2 linked regions of the Homo sapiens genome follow. The protein of the gene in region 2 interacts with the protein of the main gene of each other region in a pairwise test. Each region holds a gene or a part of one and is shown on either strand. Other genes may lie near its edges. The genes, in order: GAN and TBCB.

Evidence for each region.
Region 1: the proteins of TBCB (region 2) and GAN interact in binary tests that used the Homo sapiens proteins (3 or more experiments, as listed by UniProt).

What each region holds. Positions count from the first base shown.
Region 1 is NC_000016.10:81,317,870-81,326,712, reverse strand, and holds part of GAN (gigaxonin), read right to left. Parts: intron 1-8,843. UniProt on the Homo sapiens protein: Probable cytoskeletal component that directly or indirectly plays an important role in neurofilament architecture.
Region 2 is NC_000019.10:36,109,880-36,119,028, forward strand, and holds the start of TBCB (tubulin-folding cofactor B), read left to right. Parts: upstream 1-5,588; 5' UTR 5,589-5,681; coding exon 5,682-5,795; intron 5,796-5,890; exon of another isoform or gene 5,891-6,049; intron 6,050-6,161; coding exon 6,162-6,305; intron 6,306-9,149. Other genes in the region: OVOL3 (putative transcription factor ovo-like protein 3), read left to right, coding at 1,324-1,417, 1,490-1,554, 2,881-3,085, 3,574-3,782; POLR2I (DNA-directed RNA polymerase II subunit RPB9), read right to left, coding at 3,876-3,938, 4,136-4,187, 4,298-4,372, 4,460-4,533, 4,780-4,834, 4,919-4,977.

The sequences.
Region 1 (8,843 bases), on a different chromosome or scaffold from region 2:
AACAGACTACATCAGATAGTCTAGGTGGGTAGTAGGTTATGCCCTCTAGGTTTGTACACTCTGTGATATTCGAACAATGACAAAATGCCCAATGATGTATTTCTCAGAACGTATTGGTGTCATTAAGCAATGCTGACTGTACATACATATCACAGACAACTCAATTATCCTTTTTTTTTGAGACGGAGTTTCACTCTTGTTGCCCAGGCTAGAGCGCAATGGCGCGATCTCGTCTCCTCGCAACCTCCGCCTCCCGGGTTCAAACAATTCTCCTGCCTCAGCCTCCCGAGTAGCTGGGATTACAGGCATGTGCCACCACATCTGGCTAATTTTTTTTTTTTTTTTTTTTGTATTTTTAGTAGAGATGGTGTTTCTCCACGTTGGTCAGGCTAGTCTCGAACTCCCAACCTCAGGTGATCTGCCCGCTTCAGCCTCCCAAAGTGCTGGGATTATAGGCTTGAGCCACGGCACCCAACCAACTCAATTATCTTACGTATGAAAGTTCTGCTTACGGACTGAGTGCCCCTGGCCCTGGACAAAAAAGATGATGGGCTTTAAAATCACCCACTCCATATGTCTACTGGTTTTCCACACTAAATGAGGCGATGATGCACTCCTTGCTGAAGGCACACACCATGAACTAAAGGAGTCTGCTGGAGGGAGTGATTATTTGGCAGAGTTGGAAAAATCTTACAGAGGAAGGGATACTTGAACCAGGCCTTGAAGGATGAATATGAAATTATCTGCAAGCAAGAGTAGGAAGTCAAGAAAGGCAGAGAGACAAGAAACACATGCAGAAAGCAAAACATATTCACAGACAGGTGAAGTACTCTGCAGAGCTGTCAAGGGCTAGAAGAATATAATTAAGGTGTTTAAACAGCAATGTTAATTCAAATTCAACACATTTAAGACAGACTGTTGTCTTCCCCACTTTCCCTAGGCAGCCAGGCTCAAAACTGTTATCTCTTCTTTTTTCTTCATTCTTAGTTCTCATGTTCAATTAGCATCCAGTTGATTTCCTCCTTAATTCTGGAGACCCACCACCATCTTGATGCCTAGGACACTGTCCCAGTGCGCTGCTCTCAATTGGTCTAGTAGCTCCATGTTCATCCCTTCCTGGTCCTGTAGATACACAGCAACTAAATGCCTTCTTAAAGTAGGGCTTCAGTATGGTACTAGTCTTTAATGATTAGCAACTGATGATAAAGTAAAAATCTAAACCAATAACCCGGCATGCTAGAATATGTCTTACCTTCCTCCCAGCCACTGTTCCTATTCACTACCCCAAACACAAGCCTGATGTTCCTGCATTTATCCTTTGTTCTGCCTCAATGGCCCTGCTGTCCCCTTTCACCCACCCAACTCCTACTCATCCTCTCCAAGGCTTTGTTCAAATACCATTTCCTCCATATGTGATCGCCCAAGTAGTTCTTCCCCTCGCAATTCCTACAGCTAGAAGTATCTGTAAAATTAAAATAGCTTTTGTTCTATACTTTGTTTTTTCACAACTAAGCTGTAAAACTTGAGAGTAAGCTCTGTATTTCACTAGTCTTCCTAAACTGTCCTGACTTTAATGCCTACTGTAAGTGTGATGAACATCATCTGTTGGTGACGATGAAGAAGCCAACAGCATGCCTGGGAGCATCCGTGCCTGGGAGCCATCCCTGCCTGGGAGCCATCCCTGGCTGCGAGTCATCCCTGGTCTGCCCTTTTCCTCATCAACATGTCCTGGTGCCAAATGTCTGTAATCCAGCTGCTGTGTCCGCCTCCACTGCCAAACCTGGCCCAGGGCATCCCACTTTCCATCTGAACAACTGCAGCACCTGCTGAAACGGCCGCTGGTTCCACTCTTGGCTTTTATAGAGCACACCCAGCAGCACTGCATTGGAGTGACTTTAAAACAATACACAAACAAATATTCCTCTTTTAAAATACACCACTGCCCATCCATAGCCCGTAAGATAAAGCCTAAACTCTCTATCAGACTCAACTATGCCATCAATTGCTTTTTTGTCCCTTTCTCATATCCTATCACCTCCCCAGCCAGCTCCCAATACACAACATGGCAGCAGAAGTTTCATCTTCTTTGGAAGCAGTCTAAATGCCAGCTCTAACTCAGGGATCACAGGCCTTCCCAGCCTCTAATCTGTTGTCGATGCCATCCCACCCTTTGCTCACCATCTCCAGGTATGTGGTGTTCTGTTCCCAGAGAGGCCTGACCTAGTCCTGGTGCCACCCCTGATCCTGGTGCCTCCCCCTGCTCTTCTCATGCCTAGGTCTCCTCCTCCCTCAGATCTCAGTTTCAATGGCACCACCTCGGAGCAGGGATCCCGTCACCCAGGCCACAGCAGCAGCCATGCTCATCCTCTGTGGACTTCCTTCGGCAAACTCATATGGCTCTGTAATTAGACCCCTTTACTGCTCACCTCCCCAGGTAGCCCCCATGGATGCTGGCACTCCGTCTAGAAAGGGCAATGAACAAACGGGCATATTAGAGAGGCTTAGCCAAGAACTGATGTTCTCTACTTAAAGAAAGTCATTTCTGTAAATGTGATTAATTGGGGTAACACTATAATAATAAAGGGTCAAATCAGCCAATTAAATTCTTTTAGGGCAGACTATCAGAAGTTTCTACTCTGATAAACACAGCAAATCTATTCTCTGCTCATTCTTGAGATTCTGAAACTACCCATAACACAAGGATGTTATAAAAAAACTAAGTGAAATCAAAAGTAATCTTTAAATCTTTAGTTTTATGTTTATTTCCTTCTCCAGCCCCACAGAGATAGAAAAATAAATAGACTGACATAGGTCTCCACATACTGGGTTAGTTTTGATACTCTCTGTGGGAGGCCACTGAATACAATGCTCCAATGGCAGGCAGCACAAGAGGATGGAGTCCTGGAGGGCGCAATCCTCTGTAAATGACTGAAATGGAGGCTCCAGGAGGACAGTGGCCTTGTCAGTTCGTTGCCACCATCTTGCCAGTACATAGATGCTGCTGAGATGTCTTGAGTTATCTCCTGTGTATGTATTAAACGACTAAACCTGTAATCAACTCCCTAAACAACACCCTAATTATATAGAAGGTCCCTTTACTGTGAAATATATCTGTGAAGAAACAATACACAGTATATCTCAATAACTTTAGACAATGCTAATTCTTGAACTGCAATCTATTATTGGTAAACACAACCCCACAGCATATGGGTTAAGGCAGTGATGACATTTCTTAAGGATGTCCCAAGACTTATTATGACAGTGAATATTTTCATAACCCCTTTTCTGATCACTATGAAAGAAGCCTATAAATAAAGGAAATGGTAACCTCTTTTGCTCAAGCACCCCACTCAGGGGGTGATAAAAATGAGATGTCTATTCCTTTCCTACCAACAGCAGGCATTGTAATTTTTAGGCGGGGAACAAAGTTGATAGCTTTGGTCGCACAAGACAGTAGCTGTTAAGGAGGCCAAGCAGGAGAACAAACAAACCCACCAAAAACCCCGAGAGAAGTCTCTTATCTGTTATACTAAGTGTCAAATCCCTGTACCAACTTTCATGTAAGGAAGAGAAGCTAGAAGTTGTGGGAAACTATTCCCTGGACTAACCAAATGGAAGACTATACAATTAACCAATGGGTCCTGCTGGCCTCCAGCTCCATCACTGAAGTAGACTGGGGGCTGTAGCATGGAGAGGAGAATGGCAAACACGAATATCAGGGAACTTTCTAAGGATTTTCATTGTCCTTCAAAATCCCGCTGTCCTTAAACTTCTGGCTTCATTTCTAGTGAATGTTCTCTGTGGGTTAGAAAAGACTCATATCAAACTCACAGCCTAAATGTGAGGTTTCAGTATGAAGTTTCTTACAATTCAGGGACTGATCAATATAAACAATTTAAGTGACAAAAGTGCAAATATTTTGAGCTCAGTAATACTAAACCATTTACTATTATTCAGAGGTGTAGGCAACTGGTTACTGATGAATGCTAATAGGACCATAAAACTATGTTTCAAAATATATCTAGTCATATTAATATGTTACCATAAAAATCACAAGCATCAAATGGTCTTTAAAATTGTTCTTAAAAACATAAACAACTTTGTAGTTGAGAGAACCACAAAATATCTACGAGCAAAAATATACATTTAAGTTTCTATAAAAACTCAAATCCAAATAAACCCCAAAGATATTTAATTGGTCTGTATTTCATTATTCAACAGTCAACTTTTAAAAACTAGTCCTCCTATCTTCCATTTATGATACGCATTGGCCCTCTAAGCCTTACTCTATTGAAATGGAGGCTCCAGAAGGGCAAAGGCCTTGCCAGTTGGTTGCCACCATCTTGCTAGTACCTAGCCGCTGCTGAGATGTCTTATCTCCTCTGCATGTGGTGAACACTGGAGATAACCAACAAAATATTTCACCAAGATCTTATTTACCTAAGTATTCCATTTTTCTAACTTATTTGAACAGAGGAAAAGTCCAAATCCCTTCACTATAATAGCAAATGGCAAAGTACTACGTATTTCTATTTTGCAGTATTTCTGTAATAATCTTTATGAGAAATTAGGGCATTCACATTCCCAGAGAGAAATGAATGCAGCAAACATCTGACCATCATTCTATGGCTAAGTCACTCTTTGGCCCTAAGTACTTAGGAAGATGATTTAACTCTGCTCTTCCAAGCACCAGAATCAGGAACTCTGGTAGAGTGTCGGGCCATCTAGATGGACATAGAATCTTTATCCTCCACAGAGCCAGAGCTGCCACCTTTACCTGAGCCTTTGATTTCCTTCCTTCTTTGGATTTGTTGTGGCTTAGGAGGAAGAGAACCCATGGGAAGCGCTCAAATGCAAGGTCGCAACCATAGCCTGCCACGTGTCACATCTCACACCCCCGTATCTCCACCCTTAACCCAGAATTCAAACTCACAAATCATTCATTTATATTACAGCTTTAGTACACAAAATGATAGTCTTGTGTCTTTCAGAAGGATGATGCAACCCTGTGAAGAACTTATTGCATGGCACTCACAGACCAAATGAACCCTTATTTGTCCTAATTATGTTTTCCTTACAAATTATAAATAGATTTTAAGTCCCACTTTGATATCATAAGAACTCATTAACACTTTAAACAATGGATAAGGCGGTTTTGAAAACTGGATGCTTACTCTATATCATCCAAATATAAATCCTAAGGAACCAGAGTTTCTATGTGGAAGAGCATTTTACTTCAATCCTAAATTATATAACAAAAACTAATTTAAGAACATTGAAGGAGACATCACAGGAGAAAATGCAAACTATAAGAAGAGGCAGAAGTAAAAACAGTATAGGTAAAAGAGTGAGGACTTATCCACTAGAGAAAATTAACCAGAGCTAGGTTTTACTCCTATCACATTACTATTACTCATAATAACAATCCTCGGGAAAGTTCTACGATAAATCTGAACACCCCACACTTCCCTCTATGCTACAGACACTAGTCTAACAAGAATTTTGTTGATTTGTTTCATCATTTGAAACCTTCCAAAAACCTCTCCAGAATTAGAACATCTACTGCTACTAATAGTGGCAACCACTGTGTTATATAAAATAAACAAATATCTTTAAACTGACATGAGTAATCTGTGTTAAATTGAAATTTACAAGTGCTTAGTTTCCTTAGAAGCCTGGATAAAATATGTCTTTGATCTTCTGAAACTGAACATAGTTATTATCGCTTTTGAAAAACTCAGTAAGAATAGGGTTTAATCAAACAAGGTTGTGATTACAAAAAAGAAAAAAGGAAAAAAAAAAGAAAAGGAAAATCACTGAGAACCATTAAACTATCAAGACCTTCTGGACAAATTTCATCTTCTGAGCAGTTGTTAGGAACGCCTTATAGTAAGTAGATAAAAACAAAGTCTAGATCCCTTAAAAGAGACTCAAGCCCAGCTTATTTTCCATCACCATAAGAGTACAAGGAACAGGTAATGTCAATTTTATTTTAAGTGTGCTCAGGATTTCAAAAGATACTCAGAAACTGGAGCTTCTAACTGAACCCCTGAGCACTAAGAAACTTCACAGGCTACAATCACTATTCAAGATCCTTATGACAATCATTCGGGAGCTGCTATGAAGACTATAAACTCGAAACACAAGTGAAGAAAAGATTATGAAAATATTGTAAAGAAAGCAAAACATTATTAACTGAACATTACTGTGAAATCACTTTGCTTCACAGCCAGACTCTCATTACCAGGGAACACTTAGTGGATACTGCTGCCTCGGGAGTGTATTCTCAGCATTAACAGGGAAGCAAAGAATCTAATAAGAGGCTATGCAGTTATTCACATAAATTAATCAACAAAAGTAAACTGGGGATGAAAAGCAGGCTCTGCACACACCACATAGTACTCACGGACTTTAGTGCCCATGTGACATTAAACTACAGTGTATGTTTCAGATATTCAAAAAATAATGTCTATGTTACTATGAAACTTGGACCTCCTACAGAGATCCTATTAGTCTCCTTAAGTAGTTTCATCAGTATCATCTGTGAGTCAAACTTTATATTTAAATGGCAAAACAGGCTCATCAATAATTAGGCCTTGGAACATACCCAGATTAACAGCATAAAATAAATGATTGTTGTGATACAACTCTACAGGCCTGGATTTATACAACAGAATACCCAATAAAGTCCTGTATGACAGGGGAATGGAAATGCTTTAATATTAACATAAAACAAAACTTTAAATGACACAATAAAGCTATAAAAACAGAAACAGGTCCTCCTCCTCACAACACATACACATGAGGCAAAACAAAAATAGCATAGAGCTACATAACTTAGACTTAAAGGGGATTTGCTGTCCATGTAGCCCAACCACCTCACTTCACAGATAAGGAAGCTAGAGCCCAGAAAAGTCGCTCATGATGACCTAGGCTGGATTTGAGGCCCTATGTCTCATTCTATCCTCACTAGACCTGCCTTCTCTCAAAAAATAAGGGGGGGTCGGGGGGAAGCCACTTACATTCTTAGCTGACTCATCAAAGGATCTAAAAATCTTAGGAATCTTTTTTTTCATTTTCTCTCCAGGACTGAGAGCTAAACAAACTTTTGTTGCAATAGGTCTCCAGAAAACCCTAAATTTTACAAGTGATCACAGGACTGGAAACCTGTACAGAGCCACCATAATGTCACTGCAGAAGCACATAGCCGTTCATTTTCAAATCCTTTTCACATACATTACTCACCAAGAACCACAGCTCAGGAGAGAAATGGGTCTGAACTTTGCATCAGATCAATGGGACTGTGCCAGAATCGGAAGAGCCTCAGACATGAAGCAGACCAAACTGTAATATTCAAAAGAAAAATAAATTTCCTGCAAGCCGCAGGGAGCTTTCCCCAGAAGGTCTCAGAGTTGATGAGAAAGAAAAGGCTCTGTGGGTGCTTATGACTATGAATTCGGTTTTGCCATTCTTAGAAAGGTTGTTAGATATATATATATATATATAATCTATATCTATTTTTTTTTTAATTTAAGAGACAGGGTCTCTGTCACCCAGGCAGGCTGCAGTGCAGTGGCAGTCATAGCTCACTGCATCCTGGAACTCCCGGGGTCAAGGGATCCTCCCGCCTCAGCCTCCCGAAGTGCTGTAATTACAGCCATGAGCCACTGCGCCCAGCCTGTCAACTACTTTTAGGTTTAGTTTCCCCAACAAACCAAAGAGAAAATCTCACCCAGGAACCAAAAGGAGGAAAAGCTTTGGGAAAGGAGCATGCTGGGAAAGGGGCATGCATGCCATTTACTGAGCTGAGGGACCGCAGGAGGTCCTGCCTCCTTCCTGGAGCAGCTGCACCCTAGGGCTGCATGACACGTGCTCTCTCTACATAACCCGGGGATGCCAGTCCTCTCTGAGCTGACCATGAGGGTGTGTTGCCAAAGCTGAGTTTTCTGGCCTTTTCCTTTTATATTTAAAATCTTTCTAATATGGTAGGATTGCTAAGGGTGTCAGCAGGAAAAACAAGGGCTAGACCAAAGATAAAGCAGAATAAAAGATTAAACCAATAAGTCAAAAGACTTTTCTATATTAAGTAGAAAGTATGCCAAACAAGTTACTTTAATTCCCAGTGTGACAGAGTTGGACTGGCTTCCTTTGTTGGGCACATAGTAAGCAAAAGACAATACTGCTCCTATTTTTTATATACATGATTTATTATTGTACAGACTGGGTCTCACTATGTTGCCCAGGCTAGTCTCGAACTCCTGACCTCAAACGATCCTCCCGCCTCCACCTCTCACAGTGCTAGGATTACAGGTGTGAGCTACCATGCCAGGCCATACCACTGCTTCTAAACCACACAATCACACAACCACTTATGACAGTTACCAACACTAGGCCAAACACAGACATTAAACAAAATCAGAATTTTATAAAACTTCAGAGATTACCAAACTTTTGAACATTCAATTCACAGATTAATGATATCACAGATCTAAATGCTTAAGTTTCAAAAGGGAAAGATAAGAAACATCAAGTTCTAGAATACATAAATATATTTTGTTTCAATATAATTCTCTAAAGTGCTATTCAAACAAACAAGTACATTATAAAAGCCCAATATTATTGGTATTAAAATTACCAGTAAAAATACAAAATTAACAAATTTCTTTCTAGTTAGTGATACAGATTCGTCAAATTACTTTGAAACAGCTTCGGAATTGATAATTTTTAAAAACATCCCAAGACATTCTATCACTTCAATAGCCAAATAAACTTAAAGCAATTCATCTGTCACTGATGAAACACATATTGACTGATTCATGTTTATCCACAAAACATAAAAAAAA
Region 2 (9,149 bases):
CCCATCTCTACAAAAAACACAAAAAATCAGCTGGGTGCAGTGGTGTGCCCCTGTAATCCCAGCTACTTGGAAGGCTGAGGCAGGAGACTCACTTGAACCCAGGAGGCGGAGGTCATAGAGGAGCCAAGATCACGCCATTGCACTCCAGCCTGGGCAACGAGCAAAACTCCGCCTCAAAAAAAAAAAATTAAAAAACAGAGCTTGGATTGCTTCTTAGTCTTCTGGCTAAGAATCAAGTGTAAAACAGCTTGGCCAGTGTGCCGGGGTAGGGTCCTGGGAGCCCCTGGCTGTGTCAAGAGACCCCCTTTGGGCCAGGTGCGGTGGCTCATGCCTGTAATCCCAGCACTTTGGGAGGCCAAGGCAGGCGGATCACTTGACGTCAGGAGTTCAAGACTAGCCTGGCCAACATGGTGAAACTCTGTCTCTACCAAAAATACAAAAATTAGCCCGGTGTGGTGGTGCATGCCTGTAGTCCCAGCTACTCAGGAGGCTGAGGCAGGAGAATCGTTTGAACCCGGGAGGTGGAGGTTCCAGTGAGCCAAGATGGTGCCACTGCACTCCAGCCTGGGCAACAAGAGTGAAACTCCGTCTCAAAAAAAGAAAAAAAAATAGGAGACCCCCTTTTACTTTCCAGACTGTGGGAGGGAGGAAGAGTGTTGTCCCAGGCAGTAACTAGGGGCTAGATTATTAACAAACTAGTATTTTAGTGCCTGCTACACCTGAACAGTGCTTCTGGCTGAATGTTAGCCCTGGGAATCTGAAGATCAGAGAGGTGGGGCATCCTACCTGAGGATGCACAGCCTGGATCCTCATTTTGCCCTGATTTATCCAGATCTGCTGTCCTCCCTGCACCCTACAGAGCAGGGCAATCACAGCAGGGGGCCCCTTCAGTGTCCTCAGACAGCTGCTGTGATTTGAATAACCAGGCAGGCTGCTGGATGTCCCCTGGTGACTGATTTGCCTGGCAAACAGACCCTCAACCCCTGGGAGACAGTCCCCCTGGGGCCTTGTTTCTTCTTCCTATCCTCAAAAGCTCCCCAGGCCCATCTCCCCTTGCCTGGCTCTGCTTGGTGGTCCTAGTGCTTGTCCACCCCTGGAGGCTGGATGGTTCCCTCCAAAACCTGGGAGAAGATGGGCAGGTCCCCAGGCAGGGGTAACCTGAGCCAGCTTAGTCCACTCCCAGGGCCAGCCAGGAAATTTGCATGAAGAGAATGAGGTTCCTCAGAGGCTTCCCCTCCTTTCCCACCAGGGATAGTCATCCTGGGGCTGAGGTCTGACAGCAGGTGGAAGCAGCCCCTGTGTGTGGAGAGCCTTCCGGAGGGCATGCCCCGCGCCTTCCTGGTCAGGAGTCGGCGTCCACAGCCCCCCAACTGGGGCCATCTGCCTGACCAGCTCCGGGGAGATGCCTATATCCCAGGTGGGCCCCTCACTGTGCCTGGAGGTAAGGGGCAGGAGAGACGCAGTGTCACCATCTGGCTTTTCTCCTCAGACTGCAGCAGCCTGGGGGGGCCACCGGCACAACAGTCGTCCAGTGTCAGGGATCCGTGGACAGCGGTGAGTGTGTAACTGGCTAGCAAAGCCAGCTGTTTCGCTCCTGCCTGCTCTCAGCCTTAATGAAGCTGACAGCCCCTTGCTCCCCCGACCCATCTGCACACGCCCTCCAGCCTCGGGACCTGTCCGCCCCTACTTCTCTGTGTTGGGAATGCCTCTCCTTTCCTAGTAGTGAGCTCTCTACTGTTAGGTCTCACCCCAGGCACCAGGGCCGGCAGCCACAGGGATCTCTTCCAGCGGGGCACAAGATTCATCCCCACATGTGGATGATCCGCTTTATGTCAGAACATGGGACAAGGCAACAGGAGTGCGATGGGAGATAAGGGCTTTTTCAGCTGTGCATGCATTGGAGGAAGGAAAGCGCCAGCCGGAATGTAATATATTCATGAAAGCAAGGCACTGTTCTAGGCATGGGCTGTTATATTCAGCGGGAATAAGACAAAAATCCACAATTTTATGGAGCTTATATTCTGGTTGGGGCTGCATGTATAGACAATAAAATTAGTCAGCCTGTAATTCCAGCACTTTGGGAGGCCGAGGCGGGTGAATCACTTGAGGTCATGAGTTCGAGACCAGGCTGGCCAACATGTTGAAACCTTGTCTCTACTAAAATTACAAACATTAGCCAGACATGGTGGCACGTGCCTGTAATCCCAGCTCCTCAGGAGGCTGAGGCAGGAGAATCAGTTGAACCTAGGAGGCAGGGCAGAGGATGCAGTGAGCCGAGTCTGCGCCACTGCACTCCAGCCTGGGAAACAGATCTAGACTCCATCCCCCCTCAAAAAAAACAATAAAATTAGAAAAATAGACCGGGCATAGTGGCTCATGCCTGTAATCCCAGCACTTTGTGAGGCCAAGGTGGGTGGATTGCTTGAGGTCAGGAATTCAAGACCAGCCTGGCCAACATGGTGAAACCCCATCTCTACAAAAAATAAAAAAATTAACTGGGCATGTGGCGCATGCCTACAATCGTGTAATCGTGGGGAGGCTGAGGCACTAGAATCGCTTGAACCCGGGAGGCGGAGGTTGCAGTGACCTGACATCATACCACTTCACTCCTGCCTGGGCGACAGAGCAAGACTCTGTCTTTAAAAAAAAAAAATGTGTATGTCACATCAGAAGATGGGACTTGGCATAGAGAAAGTAAGGACCATGGGATAGTGAGGGAAGGCCCTGGAGAGTGACAGGCACACACACTAATCACTGTCTCCCACCTGCCTTCCTAATCCTCCGTGGTGGCTCAGGACACTCTGTAAATACTCATTTGCAGAGTAACAAAGGGTGGATGGGGTCCAGCCAGAGAGGCTAATAACTCCTGCATCCCTCCAGCAGCCCACACAGGGCAACCTGACCTCTGCTCCCAGGGGCCCTGGGACGCTGGGCTGCCCGCTCTGCCCTAAGGCCTTCCCTCTGCAGCGCATGCTGACAAGGCACCTCAAGTGCCACAGCCCCGTGCGCCGCCACCTGTGCCGCTGTTGTGGCAAGGGCTTTCATGACGCCTTCGATCTCAAGCGCCACATGAGGACTCACACTGGTGAGCAGTGGCAGGGACAGGGAAAAGTTGCTGGGCCCCAGGTGGGGATGGAAGGAAATGGAGAGAGGTGCTGGGCTGTGGAGTGTCCATGGTTTGTGTATGTGGGGTATGGAGAATCAAGACATGATGTCTCTCGGACCCCAGTGGGTGGGTGTAAGGTGGCACCAAAATAGGGGCCTGTCACGGAATGCAGAGTGCAGACGGATGCCGGTTATACGATTCAGGCTCCAGATCGAAAGGCAAGGGAAGGCCTCCCTCTCCATCCCCCAGGGGAGGGAGCATCCTGGTGAGGGAGAGTGGAGACACAGGTGTCTGGCCCATGTCTGCACTGGGTGACGGTAGCAGATGGTGGGTCATGGGCGGAAGAGTCTGAAGAGCTTGGAATAGGTACCAGAAATGCTCAACACTGGAAAGCAGGGTGGGGGCGCTTTAGTCCAGAGCCCATTGCCCTCTCTGTCCAGCCCTCCCCTCTGCGCCCATCTGTGCAGGGATCCGGCCCTTCCGCTGCAGTGCTTGCGGGAAAGCGTTTACGCAGCGCTGCTCCCTGGAAGCTCACCTTGCTAAGGTGCATGGACAGCCGGCCAGCTACGCTTACCGTGAGCGCCGCGAGAAGCTGCACGTGTGCGAGGACTGCGGCTTCACCAGCTCCCGGCCCGACACCTACGCACAGCACCGCGCCCTGCACCGCGCAGCCTGATACGGTGTGCCAGCGTCCTCCCCACGAGGCAAATAAACACAGAAAACTCACGCATGGAATCTGGTGTTTATTACACTCGGGGGAGAGAGGAGGTCACTCGGTCCAGCGGTGGCCGCAGTGTGGGGCTGTGCACACGTAGTAAAGGCGCATGGCGTCCTGGCAGAAATGATGCATGGTTAGGAAGGATTTGGACCCAGCAGCGCCTTACCCCAAAAGAACAGGCAAGAGAACTTCACCAATAGGTAAGGGCCCGGCAGAGTTCCAAGAAGCGCAGGGTCACCCACATTGATATCCCCGCCCCCAGAAAGGACCAAACAAGCCCCAGATACTTAGAAAGCCCTCGCGCCACTTACCTCGGCCCGCGCACTGTGTGACTGGAAGAACACAGCCTCCTTGTGGCCGCACCTGAGAGGGTAGGGGCTCGGTCACCGGAGGCTTCACACCCTTCCCTCCTCCCTTCGCCCAGTGAGGAGACGAGCCTCACTTTACCTCCCCAGTACCAGCTGAACGCTCACTTTTGGCACGGGTGGTCCTCGGTCCGCGGCAACGTGGGGTCCTGGGACACGTCGGCGATAATCTGGGTCAGTTCGCTGCAGGGACGCGGGGGTGCAAAATTACGCTCAGACCCAGCCTCCAGAGCCAACACCCCCGCCCCCAGCTCAGGGCCCGCCACTCACTCCACTTCGTGCGTGATCTTGTTGACATAGATGCAGCTGTTGTCGGCCTCCTGCTGGTAATCACAGTTCCGGCACTACGAGAGGGCGAGTGTGGGGGAAAGGGGGTCACGGAAGGATTCCAGACAAGATTGGGAGGAGAGGGCAGGGTGATCCCGGAGGATATGACGACAGGACTCTCTTTGGGGATGGGCAGGACATGAGAGTCAGGATCACTTGAGGTGCAGCGGAGGGCGAACAGGGAGTCCGATCACAGAGGCAGGGGGCAGGGCGGGGCCACGCTGGGAACAGGTGGACCTGCCGGGGAAGACCCCGGCGCTCACCGCGTAGAGCAGAATGCGGTTCTCCTTGTCTTCCTTGGGGTACAGCATGTTGTTACTGTGGGGAGGGGGAGGTGCCAGGGGTTAGTTCTGGAGCCATTCCTCGCCCGCCTTCTAACATCACCCGCTCCCTCCGCCTCACCATTCCTGGCAGAAGCGAATACCCACGAAGCCCGGCTCGTAAGTCCCGTCGGGCTCCATGGCGACGCGCAGCCCGCGCAGCCCTCCCAGCCTTCCGCGCTTGCTCCGCCGCGCTACAGGTCGCGGGAGGGGCCAGGCCTAGGTGCTTCGCCAAAAGAGGGCGGAGCTGCGCACACGTGCTGGCTCCCCGCCGCCTCGGGCTCGGCTCTCTCCGCGCAGAGGTTTCATGGCTTGCTTCAATCTTTTGATATCTTAGAGTAATTGCTTCCAATTTTTGGGCATCGCCGCCTCAGTTTACAGAATAGTATGGATCTGGTGCCAGAGCCGGGAAAACGATGCGCATCGTAAACCGCAAAACACTGAGCATCCAGGACAGAAGCCAAGGCGCTTGGCTTGGTTGAAGGCCAGTGCGCATGCGCGAGTTTACCCTTCGCGGACTGGGCGAGCTCTTGCCACTCCTACCTCCGGGCTTCAGTCTTCGCCGCCTGTTCTGGTCCTTTCCCGGGCCGCTATTGGAAGAACCGTGAACTATGGAAGGCCCCTCTGGATTGGCTGGGCTGGCCCAAGAGTAAGGAGAGCCCTCTTCCTGGCGGTGGGGAAGGGACGGCGGCGATTGGCGGACGCTCCTGGCAGGAGAGCGCGGATTGGTCAGGCACGGAGCAGGAGGCGGGGCTGATAGCCCAGCAGCAGCAGCGGCGGCGGCGGCTGCGGAGCGGGTGTGAGGCGGCTGGACCGCGCTGCAGGCATCCGCAGGGCGCGGCAAGATGGAGGTGACGGGGGTGTCGGCACCCACGGTGACCGTTTTCATCAGCAGCTCCCTCAACACCTTCCGCTCCGAGAAGCGATACAGCCGCAGCCTCACCATCGCTGAGTTCAAGGTGTGGCCATGGGGGCGGGGTCCGGAGGGGCGGGGCGAAGAAATTGGGGGGTTCCCGGAAGGGGGAGGCTGGGAGGGGCCGGGGAGTGACTGGGCGGGCCCGGAGGTGATCCCAGGCTGCGGAGGCTGGGGACCCGGTCGCGGCGGGGCGGGTCCGGAGAGAACTCGAGAGTGCAGAGATGAGGGCCGGGTCCAGCGAAAAATCCGACGGTCCAGAGGGCGGGGGCAAGAGGCGAGGGGCTGGATTGCGGCCCCGTGCGTCCTGACTGGGGGGTCTTTTGGAGGAAAAGGGACGTGGCGATGGTCATTGATGCAAGGGGCGGGGCCTCCGTGGCCTCCTTCTTCTCACCCTGCCTCCTCCTCACAGTGTAAACTGGAGTTGCTGGTGGGCAGCCCTGCTTCCTGCATGGAACTGGAGCTGTATGGAGTTGACGACAAGTTCTACAGCAAGCTGGATCAAGAGGATGCGCTCCTGGGCTCCTACCCTGTAGATGACGGCTGCCGCATCCACGTGAGGACTCTCTATCTGGGACACTCCCCCACCCCACCTTTCATTTGGTTATTCAACAGACACTTGCTGGGCTTTGCCCTCAGTCATACCCGAGATAGGTCCTGCCTTCGTGGAGCCTCCAGTGCAGCCTGACGAGAGACAGACCCATCATTAGACAGGGACAGCCTAGAGTGGTCTGGGCTGGGATCAGGAAATCCCAGGGGACTGGAGCCACCAAGAAGAGGTGCCTGACTCCACCTGGGAGAATCAGAGAGGGCTTCCTGGAGGAAGGGATGTCTGAGCTGAGGGATGAGGAAAGGGTGACTTAAGAGAAAGAGGTGGAAAGGAGGGAGCAGGGTGTACAGAGGCCTAGAATGTGAGGTAGGTCACAGTGAGCGACCAGGCTGGACAGCTTGGGAGAAACCAGAACACAGGATCTCTTTGTGCATCCACTCAGTACATCCTTTCTGTCTTTTTTTGAGACAGAGTCTCACTCTGTCACCCAACCTGGAATGGAGTGCAGTGGCACTATCGGGCTCACTGCAGCCTTCACCTCCTGGGTTCAAGTGATCCTTGTGCCCCAGCCTCCCGAGTAGCTGGGATTACAGGTGCCCACCCAGCTAATTTTTGTATTTTTAGTAGAGATGGGTTTTTGCCATGTTGGCCAGGCTGGTCTGGAACTCCTGACCTCAAGTGATCAGCTCACCTTGGCCTACTAAAGTGCTGGGATTACAGGCGTGAGCCACCAAGCCCAGCCCCTTTCTGTCCTTATTCCCTCCCGACCTCACTCAGTCTGTAGCAGCCACATTGCTCCTTGCACAGTCCAGGTGAGCTCGGCCTCTGGATCCTGGGCCTGAATGGTTCTTTTGTCATATGCCTGCGTGCCTCACCCTTCCTTCCTGTCTTAATTTAAAGTGTCAGTATTCTAGTGAAGTCTTCACCGGCCTCAGTGTTAACGTTTACCTCATTCCTTTCCCCTTCTTTGCTTTATTTTAGATTTTTGTGTTTACAAGTAATTCTCCTCTGACACACTCTGGATTTCTCTCATCTGGTTTATTTACTCTCTGTCTCCCTGGATTCGAGTGCCCTGAGGGTGGAAATTTTGATCACTATAATTCACTACTGTGTCCCCAGTACTTGGAATAGTGCCTGGGACAGGGAGGATAGTCCGTGAATCGTTTTTTGTTTTGTTTTGTTCGAGACAGAGTTTTGCCCTTGTTCCCCAGGCCGGAATGCAGTGGTGTGATCTCAGCTCACTGCAACCTCTGTCTCCTGGGTTCAAGCTATTCTCCTGCCTCAGCCTCCCAAGTAGCTGGGATTACAGGTGTGCACCACCACGCCTGGCTAATTTTGTAATTTTGTATTTTAAGTAGAGTTGGGGTTTCACCATGTTGGCCAGGCTGGTCTTGAACTCCTGACCTCAAGTGATCTGCCCACCTCAGCCTCGCAAAGTGCTGGGATTACAGGCATGAGCCACCACGCCCAGCCCTGTGAATCATTGTTGAATGATGAATTGAATCCATAAAGTAAGACCACAAGGATAATGTAATTATCCCCATTTTGCAGAAGAGAAAATTTAGCTTCAGGGTGGAGTTTATTTATTTATTTTTTATTTTTTTTGAGACAGAGTCTTGCTCTGTCTCCCAGGCTGGCGTGCAGTGGCATGATCTCGGCTCACTGCAACCTCCGCCTCCCCGGTTCAAGCGATTCTCCTGCCTCAGCCTCCCGAGTAGGTGGGATTACAGATGCCCGCCACTACACCAGGGTAATTTTTGTATTTTTAGTAGAGACGGGGTTTCACCATGTTAGTCAGACTGGTCTCGAACTCCTGACCTCAGGTAATCCGCCCACCTCGGCCTCCCAAAGTGCTGGGATTACAGGCATGAGCCACCGCACCCGGCCCAGAATCTACTTTCTTAAGGATGAACTGTCAGTAGCATTTTGGCCCCAGTCTACATGACTCTAGAGAGAACTGCTTCTTTTTTCTCTCGTTGATTAACTGTTCATTCCCCATCTGTGTTGTGCCAGGGGTTTCATTATGACTGCATCTGAGAAGTTCTAGTGTATGAGGCAGATGTTGGCTAAATGGCCAGAGGACTGAATGTGAAGGGTCAGGGGAGACAAGGGTTGTGTAGGAGATCATGAAGCTGGGAGACCCTATCCTGGGGTACCTGATGCATCAGTGACGTCTGGGAGGACATCCTGGAGGTGGTGCTGCTGGAGCAGAGACGAGAAGAATAAAAAGAATTGGTCGGGCATGGTGGTTCACGCCTGTAATCCCAGTGCCTTGGGAGGCTGAGGTGGACAGATCACTTAAGGTCAGGAGTTCGAGACGGTGAAACCCCGTCTCTCCTAAAAATACAGAAATTAGCTGGGCGTGGTGGCAGATGCCTGTAATCCTAGCTACTCAGGAGGCTGAGGCAGGAGGATCACTTGAACCCAGGAGCTGGAAGTTGCAGTGAGCTGAGATCACACCACTGCACTCCAGTTTGGATGATAGAGTGAGATCCTATCTTTAAAAAAAAAAAAAAAAAAAAGGTTAACTGAAGATGGGGAAGGGGTGCCCTAGGAGTGGGGCACAACCCAGCAAACACTCCAAGGTGGGAGGGAGCGCGGTGGGGATTAAGACAGGCCACTTCTGTGGCCAAACACTGTGGAAGCTGGGGAGGACCCTGACCTGGCTCAGGTGTTCACAGGCCCCCTCTGGCTGTGTGTGGGGAACAGGTGGTGGAGGACAGGAAGAGTAGGGAGACCAGGAAGGGGCTGCTGTGAGAGTCCTGATGAGGGGACGAGGTCTGGAGCTGTGGGTCAGGCCTCTGCTGGGTGCACAGGACTGAGCCTTTGGGCCACCCTGGGCAGCTGAAG